Linked DNA regions of Homo sapiens: region 1 is linked to region 2. The links come from fine-mapping of genetic effects on gene expression. A gene starts in region 2. The other region holds a variant in brackets. All regions are shown on one strand. Distances are from middle to middle. Region 1 overlaps LOC107984788 (a long non-coding RNA gene). Region 2 holds the start of TLE3 (TLE family member 3, transcriptional corepressor).

The links. PIP is the estimated chance that this variant, and not a neighbour inherited with it, causes the effect.
Region 1: its variant is fine-mapped to the expression of TLE3 in whole blood (TOPMed, PIP above 0.99).

What each region holds. Positions count from the first base shown.
Region 1 is chr15:69,759,418-69,762,440 of GRCh38, forward strand. All of the region lies in intron 2 of LOC107984788 (a long non-coding RNA gene), which reads left to right. Among named protein-coding and RNA genes, the nearest start is that of LINC00593, 74 kb to the right of the region's middle. RefSeq lists an enhancer at 1,516-1,585. The variant T/G (reference allele first, on the strand shown) is at 1,717.
Region 2 is chr15:70,096,418-70,098,917 of GRCh38, forward strand. It overlaps TLE3 (TLE family member 3, transcriptional corepressor), which reads right to left and starts at 1,500. Exons shown (of 20, transcript NM_001105192.3): 1 at 358-1,500. The coding sequence starts at 381. RefSeq lists silencers at 639-758, 769-938 and an enhancer at 1,758-2,500.

The sequences.
Region 1 (3,023 bases), 340 kb before region 2:
ATTTTCAAGGACACCATGAAGAATAAATAAGGTATCATTTATAAAACCTCTGTCTCCTTGATTAGTGGTAGAAAATTCTCTTTCAGTGGAATCAGTGTCCACCTCAAAACATCCAAGGGCCAAGAGTTAGGAGACCTCCTTCATGGGCGGGGTTTTACCAATGACTCAATGCTCCATCTTGGAGTAAGTGAGATCATGTTGCTGGGCCTCACTTCACTTGACTGTAGAATGGGACGTTATGCACCTGCGGTTCCCTGTTTCCTTTTCAAGGATTCTCTTGAAGGTTGGATGAGACTATGGAATGAGAAGTGTCCTGGTGCTGTCAAGGGATATGGCAAAAAAAATGTGCAAGACCATTCTTGTCAGGTGCGGGGAGAGATGTTGCTGACTTTAATAATGTACTTCTTTCCATTTGTTATTTTTACAACAAAGGAAGAAATAAAACAGGACCTCTGAAAGATTCCTTGTCATATATAGCTTTCTCCTATTGAGTTATTTTCATCTGAGTTTATCAATCAATTGAGAAACAGTCACTGGATATCAACGGTGTACCCAGCCCTGTGCTATGTGTAAGATAAGGAGGTTCAGAGGTATGCCGCTAGGTCCCTAACCATGAGAGACCCACAGTCCAGCTTAGGAGATAACAAATATGTGTTATCCAGGTATGTTAACACATGGGAAGTGAAATAGAAGTGCAGTGATGATGCTGATGATGCTGACAGTAATGATGGAAAGGATGAAGATGATGTTAATTATTCTTCATATACACCACAATTGTACAGTTTACAAAGCATGTTTAGGACGATTATCTTATCTGATATTCAAGTCTAGAAAAACCCTGATTTTACTGATGAACAAACTGAGGGTAATAACTTCTCAGAGATCAGATAGGAAGAAAGTAGCTTAGTTGGACTCCAGCTTCTTTCTTTTGGCCCCAAGAGTGCCATTATCCTCAAGACATCATAACTTTCTTCCTTTAAATTGCAACAGAACATTGCAAAATGCACATTATCGTCAGATAGTAACATGAGTAAATTAGCACATGGGAAGTGAATGTTACAAGATCTCAAAGAGCAGGCAGGTCAGGAGACTGTTGACTGCAGTGAACAGAAGAGGCTCAGTGGAGAAAGCTGTAACTGAGTTTAGCCTTGGAAGGCTGCATGGTATTTTTGAGAGGTGGAGATGGGGAGAGGGGTGACATTCTTGGCAACTGGAAATGTATAGGTAAGAAAGGAAGTGAGAAAGTTCAGGGTGTGGCAGGAAATAGCCAGACCCCAGTCTGACCACAGTGGGTTCCATATAGTGGATCTGCTGGGGAAGAGTTGGGGATGTTCTCTTCCAAAGGGCTGGAGTGGTACTCTTTACTTTAGCGTAGGTGGGATATGGCCACCATTTTCTCTTTGATATCCTTATCCCCCTCAATCCCGAGTCCATCCATAATCAAATGAAGCAGTAATCAAATCAAATAACAGTCTGTAGTCCTAGCCCAAAGACAGAGTCTGCCACTTCCGACTTTTTTCTTTAAAAAAAAAAAAAAATGTCAGAATGCTGCTGAAACAGGAACAGCATTGAGGCAACAGCAGCTCTGACTCACAAACAGCACATCAAAGCAGCAACGATAAGAAACTGGCAGTAATTGTGCGTGTGAGCAGTGTTTTCCTGATGCTCTTTGAGGCTTGGGGGCCCCTCTGGGCAGCCTGATTGTGGAAAGAAGCA[T/G]GTGGTTTTCAAAAATTGGGTGACTCACCACACAGGCAGTGTTCAGAAACAAAAACAAAGTCCTGTCTGCTTTGGTTCTCAGAGCCCAGGGCTTTGGGTCACTGCACATTTCAGGACATCAGTGAGCTGAGATTCATCTATTCATTCATCCAACCATCCATACATTTGACCATCCATTTATGCATCCATCCATCCATCCATCCATCCATCCATCCATCCATCCATGCATCTGTCCGTCCACCCACCCATCCAGGCATGCATGCATGCAGGCATCCATCCATCCATCCATCCATCCATCCATCCATCCATCCATCCATCCGTCCGTCCATTCATCCATTCATCCTTCTATCTATGTATGCATCTTTCCATTCATCCATGCATCTATCCACCCATCCGTCCAACCATTCATCTATTTGTTCCACAGATACTATGAGCACATATTTGGTATAGGCCCTGTGCTAGGCACAGAAGATGTAGTGGTGACCAAGATAGACTCTGAACTCAGTCCCTACCTTCATGGGTCTTATAGTCTATTGACAGAGAGAAGTATTGACCAAATAATTACATTGGCAATTAAATCACTACTGTGAAAAGCGCTGTGAAGGGAAATACTGAGGTGTGTAATAGGAGAAAGTGACCTAGTCTGGGAAGATGGTCAATGAAAGCAGGAACTTACGCTAAAAGATAGATAAGATTGATAACTCTACAATCAGCCTTTCAGCACCACCTCCTCCACCATTAGGGATAATAAAGAGGTAAAATTCAACATTTTTCAATCTCTCTGTCTTCATACAAACACCATGAGGAGTTAATGACACAATCATGCTTTTTTTGAGTCTCAGAGACCTGGGTTCAAATCCCATATTCTGAACTTACTACTGCTGTGACTTTGAATAAATTACTTAACCTTTCTGATTCTCAGTGTCTTCCACCATAAAGTGAGGATAATTATAATGGCCTTCAAAAGATAGTTTAGAATATAGGTTGAAATAATTTCTGTCAACTTCCTAGCCTATAGTAGATCCTTAATAACTGTGGCCAGGTTCTTAATCTGCTGTCACTGGTACGCAATTGTATGCATATCTCATGTGAGTTTGTTCTCCAGGGATGATCAGAGCACCATGCCTATTGTCTGAAGTGGCCGGCTGAGTTCTAGAACATAGCCATCTTTAATGCGAGTCTGAATTAGATGATCTCTAAAGTTCCTTACTATCCCAGCTTCTAGAATCCCAAAAATTCTTCATGAAAAAAAGCAAAACCATAGGCCAGGAGTAAGATGCCATGGAATCTCTTTTGCCCCTCTGAGC
Region 2 (2,500 bases):
GGGGCGCCCCATCTCTCCCCGTCGGCAGCGGGGCTCCCATGCCTTTCACCAAGGGCCTCCCTCTCCCCAGTAAGGCGGGGGCGGGAGACAAGCCGGGTGAGTTGGGAGACTTCAGAGCGGGGCCGGGGACCGCGTGAACAGCTCCCCCTGGAACACAAGCAGCCCCCCGCGCCACTCGCGCGGAATTAACCTCCTCTCTCAACGGCGCCCCCCGGCCGCATCCCCCTTTGTGTGAGAGCACACACACAAACACACACACCATAAAGGTAGCAACAAGCAAAATGGAGGTGCCAGATAAACTGCCTCGTTTACCCTGCCATGATAGATGCTTAAATAAACCGAGTTGCAATTACTCACCGGATGTCTGCCCTGCGGATACATGGCAGGGAGGGGTCGTGATTCCGAGAGCGTGGAAGCGCCGAGAGCCCGGGCCGGGGAGGTGCGGGGGAGGGGGGAGCCGAGCCCGAGCGGGGGGCGGCCGGGAAACCGAGAGCTCGCCCCCGGCCCCCCCAGCTCGTTCTCGCAGCGAAATCCCAGAGTCGGGCGCCCGCCCCAAGTGGAGACAAAGAGCCGCGGAGCAGGCGGCAAAGTCGTCGGCGGGCGCCGGGGCCGGGCGGCGGGCGCGGGCTTTGTGCGCCTAGGGCTCGGCGGGCAGCGGCCGGCCGCCTTCCCTGGGCTGCGTCGAGCGCGTCAATGCCTGGGACTGCGCGGACATCGTCGGCTCCCCAGCAGGTCCGGCGCGGGGTCCCGAGGCCGGGGGCCCCTCCTGGGGCGAGCTCGGGCCCCCTCCGGGTCACTCAGCGGGTCGCGCCTGTAGGGGGGCGCGCCGGGGCAGCCCCAAGCATCCGGGGCGCGCGGGTCCGATCCTAGAGGCGTCCGGGCCTGGGGCTCGCGGCGAGAAGAGGAAGGAGGCGGGCTACGAGGTGGTGGCTTGGGGCCGCAGGAGCGCCGGAGGGTGAGGGCGGGAGCCCGGCGCGGGCGCTTCGACGCCCCCCCTCGGAGAGGAGAGCCTGCTGTTCCGTCTGCTACTGCCGCTGCCGCCGCCGCCGCCGCCGCTGCAAGCCCTTCCCAGGGCCGGGGAGGAACTCCGGGCTCAGTAGGTGCAAATCAAACGCCCTGGCATCCTAAGTCCAGCGGGCACGGGAAGCCTCCGCAAAGGGTTCTCGCTGCTCCCAGCTTGAGCACCGCGTCCCCACCGAGGAGCGCTCAGCGCCACCGCCGCTGCCGCGTCGGAGCGCACAGGCAGGAGAGCGCTGGAGGGGAGACGCAGCCCGAGACCGGGGAGCTCTACGGCTTCCTTCCTTCCCCTCGGCCCGGCTCTCCTCTCCGCGCCCCGGCAAACCCCCAAAACACACACACCCAACACACACACACGCGCGCACGCACACACACACACACCAAAAAAAAAAGTGCCCCGGACCTACGGATACCACACACAGACAGGCGAAGGGGACGAGCACGAGGTCTGAACTGCCGCGAGAGCAGTTCCAAATAGGGACTGAAAAGTAACAAAATAATGTGGCAGCTTCGTCCGGCGCTGGCCAATGGGAGCGCGGGGCCCCCACGTGGGGCTGCGGGACTCGGCCTACGACTGGGTGCCGCTGGGCGCGACGTCACAATGCCCTCTTGTGTCTAAAACTATGCATGAAAAGTAGCAATCAGGCCCTACCCGCTGGTGACTTTCGCATGGGAGTGAAAAACAGCGCTCCTCAGATCAGGAATTAACCGAAAGACATATAATAAATAGATATATATTATAGTCCTGGGCTGCTCGAGTTTTTTTCCTCCTTTTTTTTCCCACGGTCTACTAGCAAATAATTATTTAGCGGGAGGAGGAAAGAGGGAAGACAGAGGAATAACAACAAAAGAAAATAAGACAAGCTGTACAATCTTCAAAACCTGTGGCTGGTAGTAATGTATCAGTTTATTCTGCAGCGGCGGCGAACGATTCCTCCCTCTAATCTCATTAGGTCTGCAAAGCAGCCCAATTAGATACTATAAAACAAACAATCACTTTGTCACTTTAATGTTTTCACTTCAAAAGATTTAGGACTGATAAAACGGTGGCTCCTAAAGTTGCCTCCGACCTTTAAAAATTTGCTCGGAACTCAGGATGTCCCCTTTTCTTCACCCCTTCTTCTGCCCGCCTCCCCCACATTAGCCCCCAGCTCTCCTTTGTTCACTCGCCCTTCTTTTCAGAAAGCCAAATAAACAGCTCCTTTGATGTGCGGCGGCTGCCTGCGAGGAGAAGTCTGAGGGACTCTGGCTAGGCGGGCAGCGCAGATGGAAGGGCCCGGCTGCCCGTGGACAACAGGCTCAGCCACGGCTGGCCCCATTCGGGGCGCCTTCCCCGTGGGCACAACTTCACCCTCGACGCAGCCTCGCCGCGCGGGCTCCTCACTGCATCCCCAGGCTGAGGGGGTTGGGGATGGGGTCGGGACCCTGCTCGGCCGAGGCCCGGGAACTCCGAGTTCCCACCTGGTTTGCTCAGCCTGCTCCC